7 separate regions of the Homo sapiens genome follow, and regions 1, 2, 3, 4, 6 and 7 are each reported to be linked to region 5. Evidence: microRNA targets listed by miRTarBase, many of them from high-throughput screens and not tested one by one. Region 5 holds a microRNA gene; each other region holds the end of a gene's coding sequence.
Evidence for each region. The annotated mature microRNA hsa-miR-124-3p reads UAAGGCACGCGGUGAAUGCCAA and lies in region 5 at 2,396-2,417, shown strand. An mRNA with a match to its seed (bases 2 to 7 or 8) in the 3' UTR can be bound and repressed. Matches are read on the target gene's strand: a 7mer-m8 pairs with bases 2 to 8, a 7mer-A1 pairs with bases 2 to 7 and ends in A, and an 8mer does both.

Region 1: miRTarBase lists IL11 as a target of hsa-miR-124-3p. Seed matches in the 3' UTR shown: 8mer at 872-879.
Region 2: the mRNA of NGDN is a reported target of hsa-miR-124-3p. The part of its 3' UTR that is shown has no 7-base or 8-base seed match.
Region 3: the mRNA of SLC75A1 is a reported target of hsa-miR-124-3p. The part of its 3' UTR that is shown has no 7-base or 8-base seed match.
Region 4: the mRNA of FAR1 is a reported target of hsa-miR-124-3p. Seed matches in the 3' UTR shown: 7mer-A1 at 3,295-3,301 and 7mer-m8 at 964-970.
Region 6: miRTarBase lists DDIAS as a target of hsa-miR-124-3p. Seed matches in the 3' UTR shown: 7mer-m8 at 3,360-3,366.
Region 7: the mRNA of NOL10 is a reported target of hsa-miR-124-3p. Seed matches in the 3' UTR shown: 7mer-m8 at 3,253-3,259.

The regions. Positions count from the first base shown.
Region 1 is chr19:55,362,401-55,366,728 of GRCh38, reverse strand. It overlaps IL11 (interleukin 11), which reads left to right. Exons shown (of 5, transcript NM_000641.4): 5 at 552-2,347. The coding sequence ends at 722. GARIN5B (golgi associated RAB2 interactor family member 5B) reads left to right here and starts at 3,469. Exons shown (of 11, transcript NM_001145402.2): 1 at 3,469-3,812; 2 at 3,997-4,151; 3 at 4,226-4,328. The coding sequence starts at 3,663. RefSeq lists an enhancer at 3,058-3,662.
Region 2 is chr14:23,477,096-23,481,494 of GRCh38, reverse strand. NGDN (neuroguidin) reads right to left here. Exons shown (of 11, transcript NM_001042635.2): 9 at 4,139-4,295; 10 at 3,935-3,992; 11 at 3,322-3,488. The coding sequence ends at 3,469. Among named protein-coding and RNA genes, the nearest start is that of NGDN, 9.6 kb to the right of the region's middle.
Region 3 is chr4:2,927,291-2,931,689 of GRCh38, reverse strand. SLC75A1 (solute carrier family 75 member 1) reads left to right here. Exons shown (of 13, transcript NM_001146069.2): 9 at 27-135; 10 at 225-315; 11 at 416-463; 12 at 540-629; 13 at 737-1,123. The coding sequence ends at 852. It overlaps ADD1 (adducin 1), which reads right to left. Exons shown (of 16, transcript NM_001354761.2): 16 at 1,628-3,519. The coding sequence ends at 3,167. Among named protein-coding and RNA genes, the nearest start is that of SLC75A1, 5.3 kb to the left of the region's middle.
Region 4 is chr11:13,728,017-13,732,415 of GRCh38, reverse strand. FAR1 (fatty acyl-CoA reductase 1) reads right to left here. Exons shown (of 12, transcript NM_032228.6): 12 at 70-3,804. The coding sequence ends at 3,642. Among named protein-coding and RNA genes, the nearest start is that of LINC02548, 54 kb to the left of the region's middle.
Region 5 is chr20:63,176,157-63,180,555 of GRCh38, forward strand. It overlaps MIR124-3 (microRNA 124-3), which reads left to right and starts at 2,344; the gene lies at 2,344-2,430. RefSeq lists an enhancer at 1,591-2,551 and a silencer at 2,839-3,128.
Region 6 is chr11:82,933,439-82,937,837 of GRCh38, reverse strand. It overlaps DDIAS (DNA damage induced apoptosis suppressor), which reads right to left. Exons shown (of 6, transcript NM_145018.4): 6 at 3,179-4,399. The coding sequence ends at 3,503. Among named protein-coding and RNA genes, the nearest start is that of DDIAS, 34 kb to the right of the region's middle.
Region 7 is chr2:10,568,667-10,572,666 of GRCh38, forward strand. It overlaps NOL10 (nucleolar protein 10), which reads right to left. Exons shown (of 21, transcript NM_024894.4): 21 at 2,088-3,524. The coding sequence ends at 3,405. Among named protein-coding and RNA genes, the nearest start is that of NOL10, 120 kb to the right of the region's middle.

The sequences.
Region 1 (4,328 bases), not on the chromosome of region 5:
GCGATTCTCCTGCCTCAGCCTCCTGAGTAGCTGGGACTTCAGGTGCACACTGCCACACCCGGATAATTTTTTTGTATTTTAGTAGACACAGGGTTTCACCGTGTTGCCCAGGCTGGTCACAAACTCCTGAGCTCAGGCCATCCGCCCGCCTCGGCCTCCCAAAGCGCTGGGATAACAGGCGTGAGCCCCCGCGCCTGGCTTCTTAATTGTTCTAACAGCAGCCACAACAACAAAAACCCAGCTCTGAGATTCCAGCCCCGGCGACTCTAACAGTCCCAGGCCCGATCCCTCACCTAGAACCGAGATGCCAGCCCTGACTCCACAGACTTCACCCCCAACCCCCACACTCAGCTCTGGAAGCCCGTCCTGACTCCAGCCTCCATTTTCGGAACCCCACAGCCTGAAGAGCTCCCGGCCTAAACACTTCACCCCACGCGCCACAGTCCCCCTGTGAATATGCAGCCCCGATTCAGCTGCAGCTCCACAGCACCCCTGCCCTGCACCCCCGCTGCACCCCCTACCTGTGACTCACCTCTCTCCTCTCCCCACAGATGTCCCGCCTGGCCCTGCCCCAGCCACCCCCGGACCCGCCGGCGCCCCCGCTGGCGCCCCCCTCCTCAGCCTGGGGGGGCATCAGGGCCGCCCACGCCATCCTGGGGGGGCTGCACCTGACACTTGACTGGGCCGTGAGGGGACTGCTGCTGCTGAAGACTCGGCTGTGACCCGGGGCCCAAAGCCACCACCGTCCTTCCAAAGCCAGATCTTATTTATTTATTTATTTCAGTACTGGGGGCGAAACAGCCAGGTGATCCCCCCGCCATTATCTCCCCCTAGTTAGAGACAGTCCTTCCGTGAGGCCTGGGGGGCATCTGTGCCTTATTTATACTTATTTATTTCAGGAGCAGGGGTGGGAGGCAGGTGGACTCCTGGGTCCCCGAGGAGGAGGGGACTGGGGTCCCGGATTCTTGGGTCTCCAAGAAGTCTGTCCACAGACTTCTGCCCTGGCTCTTCCCCATCTAGGCCTGGGCAGGAACATATATTATTTATTTAAGCAATTACTTTTCATGTTGGGGTGGGGACGGAGGGGAAAGGGAAGCCTGGGTTTTTGTACAAAAATGTGAGAAACCTTTGTGAGACAGAGAACAGGGAATTAAATGTGTCATACATATCCACTTGAGGGCGATTTGTCTGAGAGCTGGGGCTGGATGCTTGGGTAACTGGGGCAGGGCAGGTGGAGGGGAGACCTCCATTCAGGTGGAGGTCCCGAGTGGGCGGGGCAGCGACTGGGAGATGGGTCGGTCACCCAGACAGCTCTGTGGAGGCAGGGTCTGAGCCTTGCCTGGGGCCCCGCACTGCATAGGGCCTTTTGTTTGTTTTTTGAGATGGAGTCTCGCTCTGTTGCCTAGGCTGGAGTGCAGTGAGGCAATCTGAGGTCACTGCAACCTCCACCTCCCGGGTTCAAGCAATTCTCCTGCCTCAGCCTCCCGATTAGCTGGGATCACAGGTGTGCACCACCATGCCCAGCTAATTATTTATTTCTTTTGTATTTTTAGTAGAGACAGGGTTTCACCATGTTGGCCAGGCTGGTTTCGAACTCCTGACCTCAGGTGATCCTCCTGCCTCGGCCTCCCAAAGTGCTGGGATTACAGGTGTGAGCCACCACACCTGACCCATAGGTCTTCAATAAATATTTAATGGAAGGTTCCACAAGTCACCCTGTGATCAACAGTACCCGTATGGGACAAAGCTGCAAGGTCAAGATGGTTCATTATGGCTGTGTTCACCATAGCAAACTGGAAACAATCTAGATATCCAACAGTGAGGGTTAAGCAACATGGTGCATCTGTGGATAGAACGCCACCCAGCCGCCCGGAGCAGGGACTGTCATTCAGGGAGGCTAAGGAGAGAGGCTTGCTTGGGATATAGAAAGATATCCTGACATTGGCCAGGCATGGTGGCTCACGCCTGTAATCCTGGCACTTTGGGAGGACGAAGCGAGTGGATCACTGAAGTCCAAGAGTTCGAGACCGGCCTGCGAGACATGGCAAAACCCTGTCTCAAAAAAGAAAGAATGATGTCCTGACATGAAACAGCAGGCTACAAAACCACTGCATGCTGTGATCCCAATTTTGTGTTTTTCTTTCTATATATGGATTAAAACAAAAATCCTAAAGGGAAATACGCCAAAATGTTGACAATGACTGTCTCCAGGTCAAAGGAGAGAGGTGGGATTGTGGGTGACTTTTAATGTGTATGATTGTCTGTATTTTACAGAATTTCTGCCATGACTGTGTATTTTGCATGACACATTTTAAAAATAATAAACACTATTTTTAGAATAACAGAATATCAGCCTCCTCCTCTCCAAAAATAAGCCCTCAGGAGGGGACAAAGTTGACCGCTGATTGAGCCTGTCAGGGCTGTGCACTAAGTGTGGGCTTTTTACTTACACAATCCTCCTGGACTCTTGAATACGCCCTGTTTTACAGGCGAGGGAAACTGAGTCTCAGACAAGGAGTGGGGACTCTGTTGCACAAAGTCACACAGCTAGGGAGAGGTGGAAGTGGGATTCTGCGCCGTGTCTGGCTCTTTCCCAAAGCTCTCTTTGCAAGTCGGTGTTGAGGAATCCTCGCCACATGCACACACATGAGATATGGAGAAACAGGTTCAGTAAGGATTTGGGTCTTACCCAGGGCCTAGAGAAGGGTCAATGGCAGAGTAGGGATGATAATTCAAATGCTTTAGTTACTTTTCCCTTTACAATAACCCAGACAGACTTCCAGGGGCCCCGTGTCGTCACTAGTTTGAGTCTGGGGTTGGAGGTGCCCATCCTGGGCCCGGAGTTTTGATTCACCCATCATAGCCCTCAAGACTCCAGGCTGGCTGGGCGCGGTGGCTCACGCCTGTAATCCCAGCACTTTGGGAGGCTGAGGCGGGTGGATCACTTGAGGTCAGGAGTTCAAGGCCAGCCTGACCAACATGGAGAAACCCTGTCTCTACTAAAAATACAATCCAGCTACTCGGAAGGCTGAGGCAGGAGAATCGCTCGAACCCAGGAGACGGGGGTTGCGGTGAGCCGAGATCACATCACAAACAGCCCTAGGCAGTGCGGGGCCCCAGGCGAGGCTCAGACCCTGCCTCCACAGAGCTGTCTGGGTGATCGTGCCTCCTCCGTGGAGGCAGGGTCTGAGCCTCGCCTGGGGCCCCGCACTGCATAGGGCTGTTTGTTTTTGCGATGGAGTCTCGCTCTGTTGCCTAGGCTGGAGTGCAGTGTGGCAATCTAAGCTCACTGCCTGGGCAACAAGAGTGAAATTCCATCTCAAAAAACAAAAAACAAACAAACAAACAAAAAACTCCAGGCTGTATCCCTGGAGGAGAAGGGAGCCCACAGTCCCCGGAGAGTTCCTGGAAGAGGCCCCTGTGTGTCCGATGAGGTCACAAAGCCCCTCCACCAGAGGCTCCTCCCCCAGACCCCTGCTGTCCACCCTGGCAGGGCCATGGCGGAGGCCCGAGTCTCCCAGCCTGGGGCATCTCCACGCTCTGTAACGCTGAGCTCCAGGCACCCGTGAAGCCCCACGGGTCAAGGCTGGTGGGCCGGGGCTGGGAGGCCTGCACGCCTGGGTTCTGGGTCCCTAAACCAGTACCCATCCACCACAGCCACCATGATCTGGCTTCGAAACAGGAGGTGCCTTGAGCCGCTCCAGGGCACCCCGAAGTGGGTCCCTGTTCTGGGGGAGCTGCAAAAGACCCTCCAGAAGGGCGAGTACCTGCCCCTCCGTCCGCTGCCCATGTTCGAGAGTAACTTTGTTCAGGTCTCCAGTTCCCAGTGCCCCGGGGCTGAGAGGGACAGAGGGGAAGCAAGGCCCCCCGTGCTGGGGGATCTTGAGAGGGAACGGGATTTAGCAGTCACTGTGTGGGGGACGATCAGGAGGGAGGCTCAGGCTGTGGCTGCTGGAGGAAGGAGTGGTCCCAGCCCCCTCTCCCTGGCTGCCCCAGGTGACCCATCAAGGGGGCCCAGTGTTCGTGAATCACAGAACCAACCGGCTGGCCATGGGCGTGGCCGCCTCCCTGCCAGGCCTGGTGTTGCCTGACATCTTGCTGATCGGCCAGCCCGCCGAGGACAGGGACTGCTCCGGCCTCGTGCTGACCAGGTGCCGCATCCCCCAACCCCTCGGCCGCCCCCTCCACCCCTCCTGCTCTAGACGCTCCCCTCTCCCTCTCCCAGGATGATCCCCCTGGACCTCGTCCACCTCTGCGTCCATGACCTCTCTGCCTGGCGCCTGAAGCTGCGCCTGGTCTCGGGCCGCCAGTACTACCTGGCCCTGGAC
Region 2 (4,399 bases), not on the chromosome of region 5:
TTCCTAATAAGGTATCTATGAAGACTGTTGTGAATTCCCAATAGACATTTCCCCAAGCCTTCATAAAATCCTAACAAAACAATGATTTTAAGGCAAAGACAGACCTTGGTCAAACTCTCTTCCCTGTCCCCTAAGATGAAAAGAATGAGGCAGAGATGTAAATTACTTCTACAGAATAAAGCTATCACATGACAAAACCATCACATGATAAAACCAAACAGGTAAGGTGCTCATGTGTGCATTAATGACAGCTATTACTTAGTGAACACCAGAAATGATCTGTTGTCAGCAATACACTGAGGAAATCCGATATTCATATGGTCTGAATAATCAGATAACTGAATCTATTAGTAGGAATAAGGGAAAGAAAAAAAGTGACCAGAACAGCCATAACGAAATCCTAAAATTCTAGTTCTTAGTTCCCTTGTTCTACTACCCTAACAGTTGTTTTCAAACTATATTCTAAGGAATTCTAAAGGTTCCTTGGGGGCTCCTCAGGAATCTTGGGGAAAGGGGGTCATAAGAACATGGAACTTCAGGACCCCTCATTCCCACTTCAATCAAAGTAACCCCACTTATGCTTGTTTTACATATTGAGAATCCATGTAATACTCCATCAAACAATACACTCTAAACAGTGTTTGATGACTCTGGTACAAATATTCTCAGAAATAGTTCAACTTTTTACCAGAAACTTCTTTCAAATAATGCCTAAAAGCCAGGGAAAACAAAATGTCCTGGGATTAAAGACTTGATTGAATTAATATAAGGTCCACAAAGGCAGGGATTTTGTCTGCTGTGTTCACTGGTATACCACAAAGAGACCAGAATTGTGGAACTTAGGGTTTCTTTGAAGACGAGGCCTGTAACAGAAATGGGGCAGTAGGGCGGGGGAGCTAGATTATAAACCACCTACAAATAAAAAAAGATTTTTTAACCCTGAAGATTTTCATGAACCACAGGACACTTGAAGTCCTCCATCCTCAGTGTTCCCCAAGCACTGGTTCTCCAACTCAGGAAAAATTGTTTGCCCTAAGTGTCTAAGCTTCCTCACTAGTAAAATGGAGATTTCATAAATTTTATAAGGATTGCCAGGCGTGGTGGCTCATACCTGTAATCCCAGCACTTTGGGAGGCCAAGGTGGGTGGATCACGAGGTCAGGAGATTGAGACTATCCCGGCTAACACAGTGAAACCCTGTCTCCACTAAAATACAAAAAATTAGCCAGGTGTGGTGGCACGTGGCTATAGTCCCAGCTACTCAGGAGGCTGAGACAGGAGAATCGCTTGAACCCAGGAGGCAGAGGTTGCAGTCAGCGGAGATCACGCCACTGCACTCCAGCCTGGGCAACAGAGTGAGACTCCATCTCAAAAAAAAAAAAAAAAATTTATAAGGATTAAGTATAAAGCACTTAGCTCAGCCTATAGCACAGGAATTTTTTTTTTTTTTTTGATGGGTCTTACTATCATTCAGTCTGGAATGCAGTGGTAAGATCATAGCTCACAGCAAGCTCAAACTCCAGGGCTTAGGCAATACCCCTGCCTCAGTCTCCCAAGCAGCTGGGACTACAGACACACGCCACCACACCTGCCTAATTTTTTTATTTTTATTTTTTTTTAGAGACAGGGTCTTGTTGTGTTAAACATGCTGGTCTTGAACTCTCTGGCCTCAAACTATCCTCCTGACCCAGCCTCCCAAAGTGTCCAGATTATAGATATGAGCCACCACACCTGGCCAGAAGGTAGTACCTGTTTTGTTTTGTTTTGTTTTGTTTTGTTTTTTAAAGAGCACTTCCCTTCCCCTGGAAGTTCCCATAATCCACAAATCTTAATAAATTAGAAACAAATATAGTGGTCCTAACAAGCAAATGAAGTGGTTTTAACTAAAGTATTTTTGAACTGAATCACTCATCTAGTTAGTTCAGCCATAAAGGAAAAAAAGTCTCTAAATCTGTTCTTGTGGCTCTTTGTTTAGATTCCCTTGAGGAAACAGAAGTATGAGAGCCCAGGGCATGTGAGACTCTCTCAGATCTATCAGGGACTAAAGGTTAGCGGCCCCAGACATAAGCCCATCTTGGTGTCATGCACAAAAGCTCTAGGCTCTTTGACTTGAAGGGAATCTCACAGATGAAGTCTAATACATTCCTTAGCTGAGGAAAATTAAAGGCCAGGGATATTAAGTGATTTGCCCAAGATCACAGAATTAGCCTAAGACAGCCATAGGTCCAGTCTCCTAACTACTTTCTACCAAGCGGCAGCTGAGTGAAAGACCCCTGCCCCAATCAGGCTGAATAGTATAAATCCAAATTCAGAAATTCAGAATCAACGAGGTTTTAGTCATATAACCCAAATTAATTTGTCTATCGATATAACCCAGCAATACTAGACATTAAAATCAGATGTTCATGAGACCCAAAGCCTTTTTTAAAAACTCCAATGAATTAATTCTACAGACCCAACTTCTATCTTTTTTTAATCCCTTTTTTCACTTTCTGTATTATCCAAGGCCTGTGGGACATCTCACCAACAGAGGTTATTCTCTCATTAGAATACAAGATCTCAGATGTATAACGCCCACCAGTCTCCTGGCTTGAGTTTGGCTAATTATTTCTGTGGGATTTTCATTTGTTTGGCTGTTAAGCTAGGAATGTTCTGCTTGTCTGCTGGCATTTTTTTTTTTTTTTTTTTTTTGCCAGCTCTTTATAGAAGGGTTGGCCTTTATTGACTCTGGTAAAATGACCCTCAGTTGAAGGCGGGGGGGTGGGGGTCAGAGTCTGAAAAACACAAGACTATACTGACTCTTCACTCTAGCCTTCTTACTCACTCTACTATTTTCTACAAACTCCCTCAGTAACTGACCAAAGATCAGCCTTATGTTCATGCTATTTCAGAAAGAAATGAAAAACATTCAGAGAAGTGGAGATAAGAATAATCTTGCTGATGTGGAAAGGTTCTATCTTGCTTTTGATTACAGCCAAGCTCAAGTTTCTTGAACCACTTATGCCACCTGGTGGCCAGCCCAGATAACACTAATAAAACCTAAAATTCATGTGTTAATATCTCAATCTGTATTGTATTATAACAAATCATACAGGAAGTTGTGGCAACATGGGTTGAAAGAGTTGATTATACCAGCCTCGTCTCTCAATACTTTTTGTGACGTAACCAATTTTTAGTTTTTGGGAAAAATATATTATCAAAGAAAACAATACAAATGTTTTGCACTTCCAAAAAAAATTTCCCTTTTCACCAACCACTCACCAAAAATATCCCAAACCCAACGACTCCAGTCGTACAATACATGTGCAAAAAGGGGCTTTAATTCATAAGCAAAATCAATTTTATTAGTAAGGCTCTTTCCACATGTCCAAAGCAAACAATTAATGAATTCCAGGGAAAACCACCTATATACAATGAAATTAGAAGTATCTCAGGATGACAAAAAATATACAAATATGTACACCCATAATCACCGCCGCCTCCGAAAACCTGAAAGGAAGGGAAACCAAGAATGAGGCAAAGGACAGTTGGAAAAGCTAAAGGGACAGGAAAACAGGACATCTAGAGGGAAGGGCTCACAGGGGTGGGGTCTCCTAGGCAGTACCCTGAATATCTTCCCAGGACAAAAGACGAGAAGTAGGAATAAAATTGAAATGGGATAATGGTTCCTTCAAGTGACACTTTACCAGTTCTATTTAGGGAAGCCTGAACAGGAGCTGTGGGACCTTAGAGGCAGAATCCAGAGATTCATTTTGTGAATGATGCTGATTTCCAGCTCAGGAAAGCAAAAAATAAAAGCCCACCTAAGGAGATTATTGCCCAGTATGGAAGAGATACTACAGGGCTTGGTGAGACCCAGAATGGCAAATCCAAAGAGACTCAATTTGTACTCCCCACCTTGCACCTGATCACCTAAGTCCCAGCAGTTCACTGACCTTTTTTCTTCCGACCTTTCTGAGGTATCTTCTTCCGCTTCTTAATAGGATTCTGATCCTGGAGACAGATGGAGAAGTGATGGAATGGCACTGTGGTTCTGAGAGCCAGCATCCCTTCCCAAGTTCCTCATGGTAATAAGCCCCACATACATTTTGCTGAAAGCATGAAAGTCACATCCTACTACAACCATATCTCAACCTCACCTCATCAAGATGAACAGTTCCCCCTGTCAAAGCACTGATGTCACTGAAGTGTGTAAGGGAATGAAGTTGTGAGCTCATGACATTTGCTCGTTTTCGCCGTCCTTTCTCTCGCTTACTGACGCTCAAACGCACCATCATGCTCTCCTCATAGTTAATCCTGCCAGAGAAAGACAGTTTCCAGCAGGCTCAGACCATGGAGATGGAAAGCTCCAGCCCACAACCTGGGCCCAAGTATCTACTCATCTCTTGTTCAGGGAGTTC
Region 3 (4,399 bases), not on the chromosome of region 5:
CCCTGCACTAACACACCCGCTCCCAGCCTACAGCAGGGGAAGATGTTTTTCCTCATCGGCCTCACCATGGCCACCATCCAGGGTGCCTATGCCCGGCGGATCCACCCTGGCGGGGAAGTTGCTGCCGTGAAGCGGGTAGGGGGCTCCCTCCAAAGCGGGTGGCAGGCAGTCCCCTGAGTCCTGCAGGGCACGGGCTGTGCTGAGGCTGCCGTGCCCACCTGCAGGCCCTCCTGCTGCTGGTGCCCGCCTTCCTCCTCATCGGCTGGGGACGTTCTCTGCCCGTGCTGGGCCTGGGGCTGCTGCTCTACTCCTTTGGTGAGTGGCCCTGCCCTGGCAGGGGATCCGATGGGCAGCAGGGGCTGGGTGATGCACCCTCCCCTGGGCTGACGGGCACCTCCTCGATGTCTCCCACCAGCCGCCGCCGTTGTGGTGCCCTGCCTGTCCTCCGTGGTCGCTGGCTATGGTGAGCCCCCTTCCCTCGGCCGAAGCCACCTGAGCGGGAGAAGGGCAGTGGTGCCTGACTGTGCCTCTTCCCACAGGCTCACCAGGGCAGAAGGGCACGGTCATGGGTACACTGCGCAGCCTAGGTGCTCTGGCCAGGGCCGCGGGGCCCCTGGTGGCCGCTTCAGGTGAGGGCGCGGGATGGTGCTGGGGCAGGCTGGGGGCCAAGCACCTGCCCTCGCCTCCCAAGTGCCAGCCCCCTCGGGGACTGGGTGACGCCACCGTCTCTCCGCAGTGTACTGGCTGGCCGGGGCCCAGGCCTGCTTCACCACGTGGTCCGGGCTCTTTTTGCTCCCCTTCTTCCTCCTGCAGAAGCTGAGTTACCCGGCACAGACGCTCAAGGCTGAGTAGCTGAGCCACTGTGCCCAGGCTGTGGGCACCAGGCAGAGTGGGAGCCTAGGTCAGGCCCCTGCCCACTGCCTGACCCCCACCCCCCGCCAGTCCAGGGAGACCCTGTGGGTGGGGGCCGGCCCCTAAGCAGGAAGCTCAGGCAGCTCCTCCAGACTTACTTACTCCTTCAGTGACTCCGAGCTGCAGCACTCCAAGGCTGTCAGGGCTTCTGTTTGTTTTTTAAACTATGCACCAGGTTTCTGATGATGAAATAAAGCACCTGTTTGTTTTATACCAAGTGCCTTTCGCCATATATAGCCGTGCTTCTACCCACACCAGGAAAGGCAGCTGGAGCTGAATGAATGGCTCCACTGACCGGAAGGGTCCAAGGCTCTTTGAGACCCTCAGTTTCCCCCTCTGCACAGTGGCAGCCTGGGGACTCACTCAGGCAGGCTCCTCCAAGGCTGGGGTCAGCCCTGGCCAGGTGGTATCTGGCAGTGTGCCCCGCACCCTGGCAGGATGTCCCCAGCACAGAGCCCTCCCCATCAAACATGAGCACACAGTGACAGTGAGACTGGGACCATGGGGACAAGGACAGGCCAGCAGTTCCCTGGACACCCTGAGTTCCCGTGGAGAGGGACACCAGGAGTGCTGGGTGGCACGTCCTGCCGCACGCGTGGCTGCAGGTGACATTTTATCAAGACATGAACATTAGGAGGTCTCTTTTCAGCACGAGACAAACATGGGAACAAAGAAATTAAAATATAAAACTGCTTCCCAGATTTAGACAAGGAACTTGCTGAAAGAATTTTATTTGTGAGTAAAACATGTTACACTGGAGAAAGGACATTCAGGACCTGTCCTCCCAAGTCGGTGTCCATATATGCAACTATATTTCATGTTGTAATACAAAGGATTAAACTACAAAAGTGAAAATTAAAAGTCATTGCATATGTGGGGTAAAGGAGGGGATAAAGGAAGAGTCCACGGTTAAGGACTTTTCATTCTGCCTTGGCAACAAAACGACACAGAAGAGAGGCAGCACGCTTGCCCGCGTAGCAGGCCCTGCGGCTCAGAGGAAGCTGGAAGCGGCGGTCAGTGCCATGCAGCAGCCTGGTTCTCGCTCGGCTGGCCAATCAGTGGGATCCGAGGTGGCTCGGCCCATCATGCCCAGGATCTGAGCCCACATCTGGCACCAGCTCTACCAAGGGCCTGTTGGGCCCACACAAGCTTGCCTGTACCTAGTCAGGCTGGTACCGGCACCTCCTGAAATGGGTCACCCTCCGGTTCCTGCTCAGCAGCTCTGAGCCCTTTTCCAGCCTCTTGGAGGGAAGTAACAACAACAGCATCTGCCGAGGAGCACACGGTTCAGGCTCCATCAATGACGGTGATGTCGAGGGGCCCCAGGGCTACCCTCCACCTCGAGTTACCTTTGATCACAACTAGGGCATCTTTCTGGCTGAGTTAAGGTGAGAACAGTCCCCTGAAGCCTCCCCCAAATAAGTGAAAAGTGCTCTACTGTGGGGTCTGGAAAGAAGAAAGCAAAAAGCAGCCTATTCACGTTCACAGTCGAAAAATGTAAGCTAAATTGTAAACCTGCTCAAAGAAAATTCTAGAAAGGCCTCTTCCCCTCCTGATATACCTTCCCTATGACAGGAATCCAGAGACCCAAGTGAAAAAGAAACTGAGCTCCTGAATCTGATTCTGGTCGAGGGATCGTCGGTCAGACATGCATAGCATCACGTTGGGTGCACACAGGCCCATCTGCCGCTGGGGTTTCCTGCCCAGCATCTGGCCCAGACCTGCCTCTTCAAGGCCGCTGGTGGGCACACGAGTGTTTTCACGGGACCAAGGCTTTGTATATAGATTTAAGTGAGATCACTGAGCAGAGAGAATGCCACATGAAGCCAGGAGTCTGAGTCCGTCACCTGAGACTTTAGGGTGGAGGGGAAGCCAAGCAGAGACAGAATGTGGTGATTTCACAACAGGAGGGACGGCAGGAAAGGTGAGGCTCAGGAGGGTGACGTGCAGCCAAAGCTGCAGAAGCCTTCAGTACCTTCCAGCCAGGACCATGACTTAGTGCCTCCCCCCTGTGGGGAGAGCATGTCTCCCCCAGAAGCTGAGGCTCTGAGAGGACAAGGGGCAGGGTGGGGTGGGGCTGCTGAGCACACACTGGGTCAGCCCGGGGCTACACGGGGCTGGTCACGTGAGGGGACCTCTAGGCGGAGGGCTTGGCTTTTTTGCATTCCATTACACAAGGACAGAGCACAGACGTGGCCGGGGACGCTGGCAGAGCCAGGGTCGCTCCGGACAGGACAGTGTTAGCGCAGGGCTTTCAGGAGTCACTCTTCTTCTTGCTCTTCTTCAGAAAGGACGGGGTACGGAACTTCTTCTTCTTTTTGGACGGGGACTTGCCTGGAGACCCATCGCTGCCAGGGTCCGCGGCGGCCCCCTCCTCGACAGCTGAGGGGGCAGCCTCTTCAGCCACCGGGGCTGGGTCTGGGGCTGGCTCGGGGCTGGCCTCAGTAGGGGCCTCAGTGGGGCTTGGGGGTCTATGGGCTTCCTCCTCCTTCTCTAACATTGGGAAGCCGAGTGCTTCTGAAGGTTCATCAGGGGACAGATCGGGGAGAGTTGGCTTAAAGGTGGCAGCATCACTGTCATCTCCAGTAGTCGGCTCCGGCACAAGGTCTAGTGGGTGAGGTGAGAGATGGGATTAAGGGTTCCTGCCCAGATCTCAAAGGGCAGCTTGAGATGGGGGAGCCCCACACACGAAACTGCCATTTTATTTTACTCTACAGATTTTTACCAAGACAAGAAACTTAAAATATGGTCTACTCTACTGTACGGCTGGATGGAGCTAATATCATAAAATACAGACTCAGTCTCGGGGTAGTTTTTAGCTCCTTCTGGTGGGCAGTGTGCTGACAACACCAGACTCCGTCCCAGGCCTGGGTCCCCCCGCCGGAAAGACAGACTGCAGCACAAGCTGAGGACGACTAAAGGAGCGACGTCCCGCTTTCATTATGTGACGAGAAGTCTGCCCTGTCACCCTAAGGGCATGTACTAGTAGTACTGAAATTAAGTCTAAATTTGGGTCTACAACACCTGGTCTCCCCCAAAACAGCCAGTAGAAAATCGTGCATAACTCCCACAGCACGTTGTGTGACGTCAACATCCAAAAGAACAAAGCCGTTTAGGCTGGAAGTTAATTAAAAGGAAAGAGATGGCCTGTAAGGCAAGGAGTGGGGGCAAAAACTCCACCCAGCATCAGGAGTGGCCATCTGTGAAGGAGCACAGCGGCCCTGAGGACACAGCCTGGGGGCGCCTTCCTTGCACTTACCCGGGCACCCGCTCTGTCCATTCGTAAACGGCCTACAAAGTTACCAGCAACTGACAGGTTAGGCACCACAAGCTGTTTAGTGTTTAAAAATCAAGCCACACATCAGGGCCAGGGGAGTCAGCTGAGTGGTTAGGAGCAGCACAGGAGGCCCAGGCCCCAAACTCTCAGTGCTTTACCTTTGGGAAGCTGGAAGCACCCCCACCCTGCCAGCTGCCCCAGGCTAATTCC
Region 4 (4,399 bases), not on the chromosome of region 5:
CTTACCACTTCATGTTTTTCTAAATAAATGAATTTTAGAGACATCAACTTGCAAAGGAGCACATCAAACTTAATGTTACTCAAATTTTTCTTTAATAAAGACAAAGGATTTAACAATTTTTGCGCAACTATACTTAACTGACAAAGATGATTTGTTTAGGATCTTAAGGATAGCAAAGATATATGCTAAGAGGGTACCACCAGGAAAAAAGACAAATACATTCTATCACTAGAAAATGCTTCAAGACAAAAATATTAATTCAATAAGAAAATATTTCATTTTTTTTTTTTATCACAGAGACAATTAACTCATTTCTGTAATCCAGTTACGTGGCATACATTCCTTTTTCTAGTTTCTCATGCAAAAGTTTGGAAAGTTTTTCTCAAAACAGAGCAAGTTAGCGCTAATGGTTTCAAGTCAGGGCTGGGAGTCAGCCTAGAAGAGCATGCTCAGAAGGCCATTTACACTTACCTGACCCCAGCCTGATGCTCTCCCCCATCCAAAAGGGGTCAGTTAATTCCTATTACTAATGAATTATCTCTTATACTTACTCTATAGACATATAAATTACCACAAATGTGCCTATAAATTAACAAGATATCATTCAATGTGGAGGAGAGCAGCTGGAACCCAATGACACCCTGGAGGTATCTTGGTTACTCTTTTTAGAAAACAGAAAAAAACCTGCCTCATTCCAGGTAATACATAAAAATAACACTTTAACACAAAGTGTCATCCTGCCTGTATTCTTTCCCTAAAATGCTGTGTAAGGAACTCAGAATTAAATAAAATTAGGACATAAGAATTAACAAGTACACCTAAAACAGACAAGAAGTGTAAGTAAGGACTGCTTCCTGTAATCCTAAGCATATTGTTCCATGGGTAATTTTCAGAACATAAAAATACAATAAATACTATAATGGAAATATAGGGATTCATTTATTACTTTTTGGTTTACAAACAAAGGCACCCAATAATGCTTTTATTTCTTATAAAAGATTCTCAATTTACATTTAAAACAAACAAAAACCCACAAAACAATCCCAAGTTAATTCCTATAGACAACACAAAAAAGGGGGAAAAGGAAATTCTTTTCCCTGCTTTCAAGCTTTATTACACAGGTTCAAAAATGATTATTTTATGCCATCCTTAAGTCAAAGAACGTACTGCCAAGCTTCTCTGCACTAAGTCTTAGGACATGTTAATGTTGCCAAGTCAAATATAAATATAGTCTCAATGACATCACAATTTACAAATGCATATTCCAAGATTAAAACTGAATAGGGGGAAAAACCCCAAATGTTTTAGAATACAGTTTAATCAAATGAGTTAAGTGAAATAAGAAACATTTAATTTAGTAGGCTATCCTGTTAAATAAGAAGTTTGTGTAGGAAATATAATCAAACAGAACTAAAAATCACGTCTAGTAAATGACACAAATAATTTCTCAAATCTTTAAGTCTGACTTAAGTTCAAAGTCTAGCTGGTGGGGATTAACAATCTATATACTCTTTATACTAATCTTAGAACTTTAAATTCTAGAATGACAAACTAATTTATTCATTAGTTTTCTTTTGACAACAGAACTCTAAACACACAAAATTAATGCAGTGAGTGGCCTCAGCACCCTCCCAGTTAACATTTCTTTAAGCTAGATTACAAGAACAATAAAACCATTCAGAAGACATACACTCCCTATGCACTTCATAGGCCTGCCCAAGTTGTCCCCAACTCTTTTGCAAGACACACAGACAATTCATCTGATTCTAAGTCTATTCGGCAGAAGTATAAAAATCATACAAATGTTAGCATGTTTTCAACACATTATGGAAATACATTTGGAGAGATGGAGTACTCAATGTATATTATGTGGGCCACTTTAAATAAAAGGCATCATTATCTATTCCATTTTCAGACATTGTCATGGTCTCTTATACCTTTATATAAGGTATGGTCCTAGACCAGAGACTTTAGTATCATTCCAAAGAATATAGAGATATTTATATACATATTTCTTTTAAAATAATATTTAAAAGTTTTACTACAGAAAATCTGGCTTCAACATGGAAGCATTTTTCCTTTTCAAGATTATACACCTGCATGAAAGTAGGTGATTTCCTTTACATTTAGTTTTTCACAATAGCAAAATAAACTTTTTATACATTGCATTTAAATTGACAAAGAAAGTTAAGATGTAAAGCTCCATGTAACTTTTTGTATTGCGAACTGTTCTCTTTAAACATACTCCAGATACACTGCTGATTATCTAATACAGTACAACTTGATAAACTTAATTAGAAGTGTTATGCTGAACAATTTGTTAAATCAAATGTATGTTAAAACAGTAAGTAGAGTTAACTATTATGATTAAAAGGGAATTTTAATGTATCATTAAAATATACATCAATTTTCTTGCTATTACTTGTTTCTATAACGCATTTCTTTCTAAAGCTAAAATCACATGCATAAAAAATAAGTGATACCTTCAAACTCATTCAACAGTTTGCTACCTTATGTAGTATGTAAATAAAGTCCTTTATTTAATTTCGTACACATTATCTTAAGCATTATTTTATTTTTCTTGAAGGAATTCATCTTTCAAGGTCAAAATTAGTATGTGTTTACACACGAGTATATTTTTTAATGCTATTACTACCTGCAAATACATTCTTCCATAATAATGCACTTTCAGTTTTCACTGGAAAGATAGCACAAGCCTTTTAAAAGTCCTATGAATAAAATTTATAAAGGGAGGAGAACACAAGTATGGTGAATCCTTCCCAACTCCCACTTCCATCAAATCTCAAGAAATCCTCCTGCTTCAAAACATAAACAATCTCACAAGATTTTTATTTGATCATAATGTGGAAAAGAAAACTGTATTCCTATTCTTTTTGATACTAACAGTTTTACGGAATTTGTTTTCACTTTCTGTCAAAAAACACGTATGTTGCTGATATGGATTCTCAAACCCATTTAGATCGAATAGGGTCATTAGAATAATATAGCCTTCTGATTTTAAAAGCAACTGATTACTTATAGAAAAATGATATGCATCAGACGTTTAATCAGAAAAAGAAAAATGAGAACATCTCTTTCATGTTTGATATCATTTAACTTACAGAATGATGTGAAAATACGCTGGTTATAATTTTAAACAAAACTAAAACCCACTTCAACTAATGAAAAAAACAAAAAATGAAGAATCAAATATCTACCAACTTTGCTAGTATTACTGTCCAAATAAATGTCTTCCATTGCACTGAACATTAGAATTAGAAATTCACTATATGTTAAGGCATATTATTTTAATTAATATGTTCCAGAATTGCACAGTTATACTGGTCAGTGTTCCTATTTCCCCACTCTTGTCCTCAGCACACCCCTTTCTTCTAGGGCTCAAAATATTAAGTCATGGTTTTGGTGGCTACTGTAGATTTGAGCTGGCATAACACAGTGTGTTCACTAAGTTTTATGAGCATAAACATTAAAATGTTACATAAAATATACCATAATTTACTTCACACTCCGATCTAAGATGGTTTAATGTCTTGACAAAAAGTGAGATGACTTATACATTTTACATTTTGTACATTTAGATCACCATATGTATAGATGTTCTAATGCTGAATCCTTGGTCTTCAGTATCTCATAGTGCTGGATGCTCGGAAGTATGACAAAAACTTGTAACACAGACTAACCACAAAGTACCAGATATTTCTTGCCATTTGTGATCTTGCAATAAAAATGCGCCAGATGAGGATCACAAGGATAGTATTAAAACCATAACGTATATTCCGCAACCTGGAAAGCAAATCAAGAGATATGTTAGACAGTATTTTCTAGAAAAAAATATTGTTAGATGGCAGCTAATTAATACTGAGTTTTTAATCAAAGCTCAAATCCATATTAATTTGAAACTTATGATAGGCATTAAGTATACTGTAGGTAAAACAGATATGTACCTTGAATTTCTAGAGCTTCCCATCTAATCTAAAAAGGTTCATTCATTACATACATCACAGTACAGACAAAATAGAGCAAACTTTTTTTTTGACATCTTTAGTTGCTTACAAGTTGTCAGACAAGTAACTTACTCTTTCAGTTACAGGTGACAGTCACAAGATCAAAGGCCAAGTGGATAAGCCCTTATCCAAGCATAAAACATGGCATTAACTTGATAAAGGAGGATCCTCCCTTTTCTCAAAGAGTAACAATATGTTACTCTCATGTTTCAGCTCATGTTTCAAAAAATTTTGATGTTTCTGATGGTGTTTGAAAGAAATACAAACCTTTAGAGATGTAATAATGTTACATAAATTATACTGACCTCAGCAGGCAGTGCAAGATAGGACGGCAATGTAAGAAAAATGATGTAGAGAAAAGAGGTTCGAATATG
Region 5 (4,399 bases):
GGGGACTGCCCCCGTTTCATTAGGGTGAGGGTCCGATTCCGACCACTGGAGGCCAAGGGCAACTGTCTCCAATGAAGCGGGGCTGCTGCAGCCTGGCCTCCCCAGCCCTCCAGCCCCTCCAGCGTCCGGCTTGCACCTGCTGAGGCTGCCGGCACCCGCAGGCTTGGGGCAGCTTCCAGAGCTTTGCGCTTGGAACAGAAGGTTCCCCTTGGGCTGTGGAGGAGTAGAGGGCTTGTGCGTGACCTGTGAGAAAGAAAGATTGTCCCTGACACTTGCGAAGGGCGAGGAATTGCGGCTGGGAAGGGTCAGGTTGAAGCCGCACCAAAGGGGGAGGGGCGTCCTGATGGTTGAGGACCGGCGGAGTCGGTGCGGGCAGAACCAACCCGAGTTCCTGCCGCCCTTCCTAACCGGCTGTCCATGGGCTGGGCAGTGCTGGAGAGGGTGGAAAAGGAAGGAAGCAGGACCTGCTCCCAGGGAGGCCCAGGCTCTGCTCCGAGGGCAGATGGCGCAGGGGCTGGGTTGGCCCTAGGAGGAAGGAGATGGGGACAGAGGCCTGCCGGCCGCGCCGGCCTGCGCTCCTTGCAGTCTAAACAAAGGCCAGCGGGGGAGGCTCCGGACGGTGAGGCTTGGGGAAGCCACTGATCCCTGGCCCTAGAGGGCCAGATCGGGGGCGCCCCAAGGACCCTATCGAGCTGGCAGTGACTGCAGTCGGGCCGTGGAGTGTCGCCTGTGATTCCGTGGTCCCTACGGGCAAGAGCTCCCATCCCGGTCTGAAACTGTGAGAACCGCAAGCTCCGATGGGGGCGGGGAAGGACGACCTTTAATTCCCACCCCACTGTACGGAGCCCAGCAGGGCCATCCGCAGGAGGCCGGCGGGACCCTTGCCTTTCTCAGGACTGAGAGGCTTGGAGGACCGCGGTGTGAGCTGCGCGGCAGAGTGCGTTCTGCAGGCGCCAGACAGGAGACGCGAACCCGCGGTCAGGGCCCGAGTGCGGGTGCGTGTCTGCGGGTGCCGCTGGGCTGCGTGCCGGCGAGGCGTGCGCGTGGCGAGGCGTGCGCGTGGCGGGGTGTGGCTAGAGGTGTCAATGTGCAGCTGGAGGGGCTGCGCGCGTGGGTGCAGGAGGGCCATGTGAGGGGCTGGAGTGTGTGGGAGACAGGCGTTTCCTTGGGTCTCCGTGTGGCCGCCGGGCGCAGGGCACGGTCGAGGGCGCTCGATGGCTGAGTCCGCGTGAGCCGAGGAGCGCGCGGGGCGGGACGCGGTGCGAATGCGCGGGAGGCACGAGGCGCGCAGTGCGTGTGTGCGCGTGTGCGCGGCGCGCGTGCCCCGCAGTTCTCAAGGACACCTCGGGGAGGCAGCGGCGGGGCCGGTGTCCGGGTGACGTCACCGCGCGCCCCAGTGATAATCGGCCGGTGCCGGAGCGGAGCGCGGATACGCGCGGAGGCAACGGCGACGGCGGCGGCGGCGGCGGGCGCGGGGACAGTTGCATCGGGGCCGGGCCGGGCTAGCAGGAGCTGGGCGCCTGCAGCGTGGACCCCGTGGACACTCGGCTCGCAGCCGGCCTGCGGCGCTCGGGGACTTGCCTGGCTCCCTTCTCGGGGTTCCCGCGCCCTTCTCCGCCCAGGGCAGCAGCGCGCGGGGCCCCCGGGAGCCGAAGAGCAGGCGGGAACTGGCGGCGGCGCGGGAGGCGCAGGGAGCGGAGGCGGCAGCAGCGGCTCCCGCCGGGACTGGTAATTACGCTCGGGGCCGGGCCGGGGCGAGCCGGGCAAGCGGCCTCTCTGGGTCTCCCCGTCTTTCTCTCCACGAACAGCTCGAGCGCCTTCTCGCGGGCCCGCTGCGCGCGGAGAGGACGAGCTCGCTGGGTTGTAAAAAGAGACGAGTTTTCATCTTTGAGCATCGAGATTCGTTCTTTTAACCGCATTCGGTGCGCGCTCCTGGGTCGGCACGGGCAGGGCGACGGCAGGGGAAGGCAGCTGCGGAGGAGCTCGCGCCGCCCAGTCGGAGCGGTTCTGCGCCCCTCGGAGCCCCGCGGGAGGCGGCCGGGTGCGCACGCGCTCACCACCCCCACCCCCGGAATCCGTCTTCGCGATTCCCGGGCGCCCCAGCTCCAGGAACGCCCGGAGGGACGCACTTGGGGGCCCACTCTCTGCCGCGGAAAGGGGAGAAGTGTGGGCTCCTCCGAGTCGGGGGCGGACTGGGACAGCACAGTCGGCTGAGCGCAGCGCCCCCGCCCTGCCCGCCACGCGGCGAAGACGCCTGAGCGTTCGCGCCCCTCGGGCGAGGACCCCACGCAAGCCCGAGCCGGTCCCGACCCTGGCCCCGACGCTCGCCGCCCGCCCCAGCCCTGAGGGCCCCTCTGCGTGTTCACAGCGGACCTTGATTTAATGTCTATACAATTAAGGCACGCGGTGAATGCCAAGAGAGGCGCCTCCGCCGCTCCTTTCTCATGGAAATGGCCCGCGAGCCCGTCCGGCCCAGCGCCCCTCCCGCGGGAGGAAGGCGAGCCCGGCCCCCGGCGGCCATTCGCGCCGCGGACAAATCCGGCGAACAATGCGCCCGCCCAGAGTGCGGCCCAGCTGCCGGGCCGGGGATCTGGCCGCGGGACACAAAGGGGCCCGCACGCCTCTGGCGTCGCGGGGCGGGTGGGGGCGGCCGAGGGCGGCCGAGGGGGGAGCCTGCGGCCGGGGCCAGGCTGCGGCCAGCCGGCCCCCGGCCACGTGTGTCCGCAGCGCGGAGCGCCCAGGCGCCCGCAGAGGGCGGCGGGGCCCGGGAGACAAAGGGAGGGTCCACGGGGAGCGGCGGGCGGGTGCGTGGGGCGGCGGGCTAGGGTGCGGCGCTGTCCGCGGTGCTGGCGGCGGGGCGGCCCCCGCGGGACGGGAGGGCGGCCAAGTGCGGCCCTCGCCCCCACAGCGGGCGCCCTGGACAGTTGCCACGGCAACGTGGGAGGAGGTGGGGCAGGGTCTGAGGTCACCGCTAAGTCTGCCCTTCCTCGGGCCGCTGCGCCGCGGGGCGGGGCGGAGGCGGCGCTCGCTGTGGCCCCAGAGCAGCCCCCGCAGCCCAGGACCAGGCTTGCATGGGGACGGGGGTCTGCGTCCGCGTCCAGGGTCCAAACGAGGGCGGTGGACACGCCGGACCGCATCCCGCCCCCAAAGCCGGCTCTGGGCTGTGCAGGACCAGGCACGTGAGACTCCGCAGCCCAGGGAGAAAATGACAAATCCCTCCCCCGCCGCCATCTGCAGCCGCAGTGACACCCACTCGGGTTTGCTGCAGGGGTTTTTTTTCTGTCCCCGGAAGCCAGCGCCACCTGCTGACGCCCGGCACCGCCTCTGCGCCGCCTCCCCCGCGCCCATCCCAGGCCCCGGCTGGGCTGTGATGCCCCGGTAACAGTCAGAGGACGACCCCCTCCCCAAAAGCCCCCTTCCCCTGGGGCGAGTGCCAGACCTGGCTTTGCAGCTTTGCCTCTTTCCTCTTAACCAGGTAGAGGCTGAGCCTCTCCTCCCCGGCTTCAATCCGAGGCAGGAGTCTGAGTCACCTGAAGTTCTCCCAGCTCCAGGCCCAAGGCAGGGAGCAGAAGATCAGGATAAAAGGAACCATTTGAGTTTCAGGCAGTGGCATCTCCACCCCCACCACCGCCGCTGCAGGGCCACAAAGGGAACCTGCCTCTGCGGCTGTCCTCAGCACAGACCTCCAGCCCCTCCACCCAAGTCGCCTGCTGCAGACACAAGCAGGAGCCACTGGTGCCTCCATCTTCCCACCCCCACCCCAGTCAGCCAGGCAGAGTCAGAACACGGTCCACCAGTCTCCTCAGGGGCAGGTTCCCCCTGGAGGGCACAGAAGTGGCATAGGCAGCCCCAGCAAGCCCCGGCCTGACCACAACACTGACCCCGGGGCTTGGCGTCCCCTTCTTCCTTCCTCCCGCTGTGAGGGGACAGGCAGCATCCCCCAGGGGCACTTCTGGTCCTAGAGAAGGGGAAGGGGCCCCAGGATCGTTCCAGGACAACACCAAAGGGACTGGTGGGAGTGGGGTGTTCCTTCGGGGTACAAGATGTGGCCCTAGCCTAGCTGGAGCTTCCTCTTGGAGCTCTGACCTCCAGCCTGGCCCTTCCCTCGGAGGGAAGGTGGCCCCTGGCTGCTCCCTCCTCTGGGGCCAGAGATGGGGGCTGGGGCTTTGTTCTTGTACCACTTTCCTTCCTGGGGAGGGGACTTGGCTCCTAGCCAGAATGGACCTTCCATGTCAGTAGCCTGGGGAGGGGGACACTTGAGAGCTGGTGGGAGCGCATGGGCAAACTGCCCTTGGCACTGTCCCTAGACAGTCAGTCTCTGTGGGGTCTCCTAGGAAGAGCTTCCTGGACTCTGTCACGGTCAGGGAGCTACCTCTCCTGATGCCTGCCCCCAGTGGTG
Region 6 (4,399 bases), not on the chromosome of region 5:
TGTGTAGGCCTGTGCATTGGCTCTCCCTGGTCTGTGAGGGTAGTGGCAGCTGTTATTTACCCTGTCTGCCTCCAGCCACTGACACCAGGAAGGTCACCCTTCCCCCTTCTGCAGGCCATGCCTATCTTCTCTGAGGCCTTTTAAGACTGTTGGTCCACAATGCCAGTGGGCACTTCCAATCAATGTCCTCTCATTTCCAGTTGATAGTGACACTGTGATTTCCAGATTAGGCGTTAAGCCATGCTGATGGAGGAATAGATATTCTTTGCACAAATGGAACCGCTCTTGTTGCTCCAACCACAGAGCAAGGATAGGCTCTTGCCTATCCTTCCAGGGTGCAGCCAACATTGAAAGAGATCACAGTATAGGAGTGCAGTAATTGCAGCCTAAAATGTTCAAAAGACTGCATGGTTGGGAAGCAATATTTAGTACAAATGGTAAATAGGACCAAAAAATGGATTATTATTTATTTTCCTGCACACTCTGGGTAGGACTTGCTTTTCGGTAGTCACCAGCAAAGTATAGTAACAACCTTTGAGAGATCATTGGAAACCAGTATTCACAGTAGCACAACGGATGCTGCATCACAGAGGAACTAGCATTAAACAAATGACATTAGGTAACTGCTAAGGCAAGATCTATATAGCTCAACAAAAACAGTTTCTGAAGTCATGACATTGTAAATACTAACAGCATCGTTACTCTTTTATCACAGAGGGAGGTATGAAATTAGCCAGGAATAGAACATCTGACAAAAAGAACACAGACTATTTCCTAGTCCCAAAGACTAGGAAACAGTCTAGAAAGAATTAAGAATCTTTGTATGAAATGATTGGACAATAAATATGCACCAGTTTTTTTGAGACAGGGTCGCCCAGGCTGGAATGCAGTGGCGCAATCTCAGTTCACTGCAAGCTGCACCTCTTGGGTGCACCTTAGCCTCCCAAGTAGCTGGGACTACAGGCGTGTGCCACCACACCTGGCTAATTTTTTGTAGAGATGAGGTTTTGCCATGTTGCCCAGGCTGGTCTTGAATTCCTAGACTCAAGCAAGCCTCCTGCCTCGGCCTCCCAAAGTGCTGGGATTACAGGCATAAGCTACCAGACGTGGCTTGTTTTTCTTTCCATAGGAAAAATAAAAATTCTTGAGTCTGTAGTGATAGAAGGAAAAGCAAACTAATTTACCACCACTGACTCTTTACTCTTAAAAAGGAAAAATAAAGTATATTTAACATCGAGATCCGGTGGGCAACATTTTAACCAAGCAATCTAACTTAGCATTACTAATAGTGGAACAACTTGATATTGTGTCTCCTCATGTGTTACAACATAAAGTACACAACATGAGCCATGGAATATCCCTGCCAAAACCTGAATCACATCTAGTCTTTAGGCCTAATTTTCAGGAAATGTGGGGACTGGGGTGGGGTAGAGAAACAATGTACTGATAGTATAAGGAAGCAAACATACCAGTCGAGAATGTGGGACATTCTACAGAACAGTGGTTTGAGGTTTTTTTTCCATAAAGTTACTATTATGTGAAATAAGAGGTGAGGTTCTAGAAAAAGAGACAAGCAAACACTATGGATGAACCTTGATGAAATTCTGGTTAAATAACAATTATAATTTGGGGACAAGTAGAAAAATTTGATTATGGGCTGAATATTAGATATTGGGGATTACTGTTATCTTTCCTTGGTGTGATAATGATACTGTGGCTATGTAGAGAGAAGCCTTTAAGAAAATTTGCACTGAAGAATTTAGGGGTGAAATGTCCTGTCTGCAGCTTACCTTTAAATGGTTTAGCAAAGCAAAACTGTATCTATTTAGACACACAGAAACCAAACACACACACACAAAGGCAAAATGTTTAAAATGATTGAATCTAAATGGTATGTACAGATACCGTATCATTCCGTATCATTGTGCTATTCTTTCAACTTTTTTTTTTTGAGACAGAGCCTCACTCTGTTGCCCAGGCTGGAGTGCAGTGGCAAGATCTTGACTCACTGCAACCTCCGCCTCCCAGGTTCAAGTGATTCTCGTGTCTCAGCCTCCTGAGTAGCTGGGATTACAGGCATGCATCACCATGCCTGGCTAATTTTTGTATTTTTAGTAGAGACAGGGTTTCACCGTGTTGGCCAGGCTGATCTCGAACTACTGACCTTAGGTGATTTGCCCACCTCGGCCTCCCAAAGTGTTGGGATTACAGGCATGAGCCACTGCGTCCGGCCGCTTTCAACTTTTCTGTTTGCAAATTTTCAAAATAAAAAATTGTGGAGAGGGAGAGACACAGTAGGGCAAGAAGGTGAAAATATAGGGGGAATATTTGGTATAAGACCTCAAAGATGGGTGTAATAGATCAATAGTCTAAATGGAAAGATTAGCACTTAGATGGTATTTTCTGAGACTAGAGGAAAGCAGCTGTGGGTGAGTACAGATAGACATGTGGGTAGGTATGGGTGCGAGAAGTTGAGAAAATATCAAGTGATCTCAATATTGTCCATGAAGTAGGAGGCAAGGAGAGTAGCAGTTGCTTTGTGGCATGAAGAAAGTATTGTTTTGGAATGGTTGCTGTGGGGAATGGCAAAGGAACCTGGCCAGGTATATGTGAAAGATTTCACAGGGTGCAGCAGAGCTGCTGCTAAGACTTGAGTGTCTGAAAATTGCTTTTCATTTTTGTTCCTGTTAGCACCCCAAGCTTACCTCCTATCATAGAACCTACCAGATTCTAATTACCTGATTATTCCAATAGCTCATGAGTTTGAGGGAAGGAGCTTGATTTTTATCTTCAGTTTCCAGCACTAAGCACGGCCCTTGGCATGTAGAGTAGGCATTCAGTGTATACGTATTAAATAAAATAGCAACAGTTTCACATACAACTTCTAAATAGCTTTTTTTCTTAAAACGTTTCTTCTTACCCTCAGCTCACTGATGAGTTAGCTGCTTTTCTTCCATGCTCTCATAGCAACGTAAATGTTTGTCATGCCCATTACAAACCCATATCATTGCATCTTCTGCACTGTATTGAAGTTACCTGTTTATCTGTCTTATCCAGCAGACTAACATATTTTAAGATCAGTGATCTTGTAGCTTTCTATCCCAAACTCAGCACACTCATTGGCCTATAATATAGCTGGCATTTTCTGGTCTGAGCTGAACAATTAAAAAAGACTAAGTTTTGGTTTGCAAAGTCTTTATTTCTGGATGTATATGTGATTTTAACAAACATTAATACTTTCAAAAACAATCTTAACAATATTATTAAAGTACAATAAACAGTATAAGATAAAGTGCTCAACTACCTAATCATAGTATTCTAGATAAAACCCTGGGGAAAACAATGGCTTTATATTTTAAAAGGCACAGTAGCTCCCAGCAGAGTCCTGTTTTCAATTTGCTTCTCTCCAAGTGTTCAAAATGTAAAGAATGCTTTCCGTACCCCTGAAGGCAAACATTTCCAAACAGATTTAAAAGTTCAGGAATTGGGTTCAGGTGACTTTTTATGAAAACAATTCAGGTGACCAAGCACTTCGAGTTTCACACACTGAAGGTGGGCCTTTTTCTGAAAATGGAAGGCAACATTTGACTTCTGAACAAGAATCAGGTCCAAGAATAGGGTGCAGCTGAGGTGCTGCTAAGACTTGAATGTCTGGACATTTGGAAATCCAGCCTGAACTTTTACAGTTATATTTATGAGTTTTCTTTTTCGTAACAACTGCTGCAAGCATATTCTTTAATTTCTTCTTAATTAAACCTTTATTGGTTCCTTGTCTAATATGTTTCAGTTTCTTTCTTGGTAACTCTTGTTGATCAGGGAAATGATAGGCAGCAAGGCATTTCCCTAGACCTATGCCTTGGAATCCAAGCATATCTGAAGGAAATATTTTTTGTGTGGTAGGAGGGACCCATTCATCACTATCAGTTTCATGGCACTCAGCAAAAGGGTAGTGATTGAAAACGTCTGGTTGTGAAACACCAGATACAATAGGGCTTCTGATTTTCTGGCTAGGTGTTTTTATATTTTTTGGACAGCTTGGGCTGGCTTGCTGTTTGTCATTTTCAGGGAAAATCCTTATTTTTTCATAGTTACCATCAAGATCTGAATAAAATACAGGTTTTTTGAAAGCTCTGTTTATCCCATGAATTCTTGTTTGGTGGAACCCTGAAATTGGAGTTGACTGTGAACATGGAACAAAGTCTTGACTATTTTCAAAATTATATTCTGAATCTGATTGAAAATGAGGTGTTGGAGAGCATGTTCTTGAATGCCTAGAGTCAGATAGGCTTTGCAAGGATAATTTTTGTGAAGGCTGGATGAAGTCTTCAGAAAGTGATCTCAGTGAAAAATCAGACTCTGAAGGGTGACTTTCTGCCAAAGATGTTCCCCATTTTAACAA
Region 7 (4,000 bases), not on the chromosome of region 5:
CAAGACCAAACAGGATCCCCCATCACGTCCCTCCCAGCCATGTTCCCCCCTCTCTCCAAAGCCACCATTATCCTAACTGCTGAGCACAAACTTGGAAACAAATAAACAAACTTGGGCCTTAGGTCTGGGGTGTCAGAGGCTGAGGGGATCTGGAGCAGGGGAAGGGGAGAAATGGCAGCCCAGGAACCCCCAGCTCAGTCCCGCTGTAAAAGCCATGCCCTCGGGGCCCCATCTGTGAGGAAATGCTTCTCGCACTGGCTCATGAACACCCCCAGCTGTGCGTGCCTGGGACAGAGACCCATGGGAAATGGCCATTTCCTAGGACTAGTGAGTAGTATATCACACACACGGAAAAATTATGGAGTAGAGTATGAAAGCTGAATAAAACTTGGAAACAGGAAACTTCGAAGACATGAAGGATTAGAGCAGGCACGCTGGGAATCAGCCCTGAAGAGGCAGGCCTGCGTTAAGGGCTGAATCGGTAGGAAAACTGGGGCAATGAGGGACGGGTCAGGCCTAGGAGGAGTACCCATATAGCTGTCGTCAGCGGACACTCCTTCTGTGTCCCTCAGACTCAGGGCAGTCCCTCCGCCTGCCCTTCAGCAACTCTCCAGAACAAAAGCCGAGGTCACCTCCCCTGCTCTTGAAAACCCTCAATGGTCAAGAAGCTTTGTCAAATCCTCATGAGCCTTGCACAGTGCCAGGTGCTGTACCTAATGTAAGTGCCTCATTTTACTCTAATAAAAACTAAGTATTAGGCTGATCTACAGGAGGAAATGAGATTCACAGAGATTAAGGCAACAGTCAAAAGACACAGAACTAGTAGGCAACAGACCTGGAATTCGACCCTGTGTCAGGGTGGTTCCAAATGCAAGCTCTTTCTACTAAACTGCCAGCCTCCCAGGTGCCCAGAAGTGATCCTGGCCCTCCTCCTCTACCCTGATGTCCTGACCTCCTGGTGTGCTGACAGTGCTGGGTGAACAGAGAGCACCGCTGCCTGTGGAATCTGGCCCTGCGGAATACCGGCTCCCCACAGAACCAGGAGGCCCTTCAAGAAGGAAGGAAAAGAGGGGCCTGGGAAAGCCAGGAGTAGACGTGACAGACCCTGACGTCAGGAAACAGGCCAAGGGCATAAACACCCAACCCCTGGGGACATTCCAGCCAGCAAAATGTCCCTCTCTAAATTTTTAAAACCCCCCATCCCTGAGGGAGGCAGCGTAGAAACAGAGAAGAGAAGGCAACAGGAAGCTGCAGCCACTTCCTTTGAGAAGAGGTGGACAGTGAGCAAGAGTTTAGGGGGAAAGAAGCTGAAAAAGGACAGTACCGGTCCAGGGGTTGGAACAGCTGGAGGACTCCCTGGTACCACAGCACAAATGGGGCTGGGTGCCCCAGGAACAAGAACATACACACATACCCCACCTTCCACACACCTTTTTTCTGTAAACAGACCTCATTTCTCGGACCACAGAAGTGGACACATGGCTGAGCTGTTCCCTGCCTTGGGAACAAGCCAATCTGCACAGAAGCAGAAGCAGCACAGAGAGCAGAGGCAGGGGGACGGGAAACACATAGGGAAAAGACAGCAGGGGAGGCCTGAAGAGAGAAGGAACAATGGTGAGACAGGAGGAGGAAGGGAGGGAGTAGGGGAAGGAGAGAGAGAGAAAGAGGGAAACAGAGATAGAGTGCGCATGTGCTAGCTGACTGACCGTGGAGCCATGGATCTAGGTGTTCCTGAGGCCAGTTCCATGTCCCAAGCATGGTGATGTAAATTAATGCATTCTGCCTCTCGGCTTATGCTATTCGAAATTAGGCTGTATCATTCACAGTCCAAAGAGTTACTATTTCAGTTGTATATAAAGAACCTTAAAAATCTATAAAGGCACCTCCAAAATCACATCAAAGCTGGAAAAACTAAGGAAACCAAAGTTGGTTCTCTTCTTTCTTTTTTTGAGACGCAGGTCTTGCTCTGTCGTCCAGGCTGGCCTCGACTTCTCAGGCTCAAGCAACCCACCTCAGCCTCAGTAGCTGGGACTACAAGTGCACACCACCGTTTGACTAATGAAAAAAAAATTTTCTTGGAGTCTTTCTCAAAGAAGCTATTCAAATGAAAGTATATTTATTTTTATAAATGTTTCCTCCAGTAAGTTTATGTTTGACTGTACTTAAGAAACAGGAAAAAAAAAAAACCTGTAATTAAACTTGTGCCAAGATTAACCAACAGCCTCTACTGCTTGTTTCCCATTATTACAGGTTGGGTATCCCTTATCTGAAATGCTTGGGACCAGAAGTCTTTTAGACTTTGGTTTTTTTGTGTGTTTTGGAATATCTGTATTATATTTACTAGTCAAGTATCCCAAATCTGAAAATCCAAAACCTGAAAAGCTCTAATGAGCATTTTCCTCCAATGTCATGTCAGTGCTTGATATGGTTTTGCTCTGTGTCCCCACACAAATCTCATGTCAAATTGTAATCTTCGGTGTTGGAGGAGGGGCCTGGAGGGAGGTGACTGAAACATGGGGGCAGACTTCCCCCTTGCTATTCTGTGTTAGTGAGTTCTTGGAGATCTGGTGTTTGAAAGTGTGCAGCATCTGCCCCTTTGCCCTCCTCCTCTGGCTCTAGCCACGCAGGACATACCTGCTTCCGCTTCACCTTCTGCCACGATTGTAAGCTTCCCAGGGCCTCCACAGCCATGCTTCCTGTACCACCTGTAGAACTGTGAGTCAATTAAACCTCTTTTCTTTACTTATAAATTACCCAGTTTCAGGTAGTTCTTTATAGCAGTGCAAGAACAGATAAATACAGTGCTCAAACAGTTTTAGATTTTCGGATTTGGGATGCTCTCAACCTGCACCATTAGATTATACTCTCTTGGTATAAATTATTTAAAAACAAATCCCAAACTAATACATAAACAAGCCGAACAAACCTATCAGCATAAACTTATAAACACAAACACAGGCAATACACAGACACCAGGTAAAACAGGGATGGTATTTCTGGATGGTTTAATCATGAATGGCGGTAGGCAGTGTAAGAAAAAAGTTCCTAGAGCATGATAAACCTTGGTTTCTGGCACAGGATAAACCTTTCATTTCATGGTGTACATTTCACAATATTAAAAAAACCCCAGCCTGGTTTTCATGATTAACGCCGTGGGGAAAGGACAATGTTTCCAGGGAGCAACGACTCGCAAGCACACCCCTGGGGCTGTGCGGTGGCCGTCGGCGGGGCCAGCTTCAAAGTCCAACCCACAAGGCACAGGTTTTCAAATCTTTACCTCTGTGTACAAGAACGTACATGAACTTTAAAAACGTGTGTTTCCTCGTCTGTGTTTAACACCCTAACGATGATCAGTTTGGGGGAGACGTACCCCTCCCTAATCACAGGTAGGACCACTTCCCAAATCAATGAAACGACCGTCCTCTTTTGTGTCTTGACTTCAGGTGTCCGGCCGAACGACGGAGTCTTTTCCTTTCTTGTCGATGCAGTTTCTCAGCCTCCTGTTGCTTCTTCTGCTGTTCAGACTAAAAGAGAAAATGAAATGAGTAGAGGGAAAGAGAGAAAATTCTATACCTCTTTTCTGGTAACCGTCAGGCTGCCAACAGTACCACCACCAATCTCAGAACTGCTGCCAGGAGAAATGCTGCCCACAGGCTCCAGGGGACATGGTGGGGCTGCCTGGACTCTGCTCTGACAAATGCTACCCTGGCAGAAACAGCAGGACCAAGGCCAACTTTTACCATCAATGCAAAAGCAGAAATTCTGAACCCCAGGCAAGAGAAGGGCCCTGACAGACCAGCCTCCTACAAAGTAGGAGACTGGTTTTTCAACCAACACACTCACACAACCACTGGGATGTTTTAAAAGAGCCTACACAAGAGCCACCTTAAGAAGATGATATCACTTAGAGTGTCCACTTCCTTTTAGAGATCTTTGTTTACAAACTAGAGCCATTAGTTTATTCCCACTGTTTTTAAAAACAAAAAATACTTAAATGTAC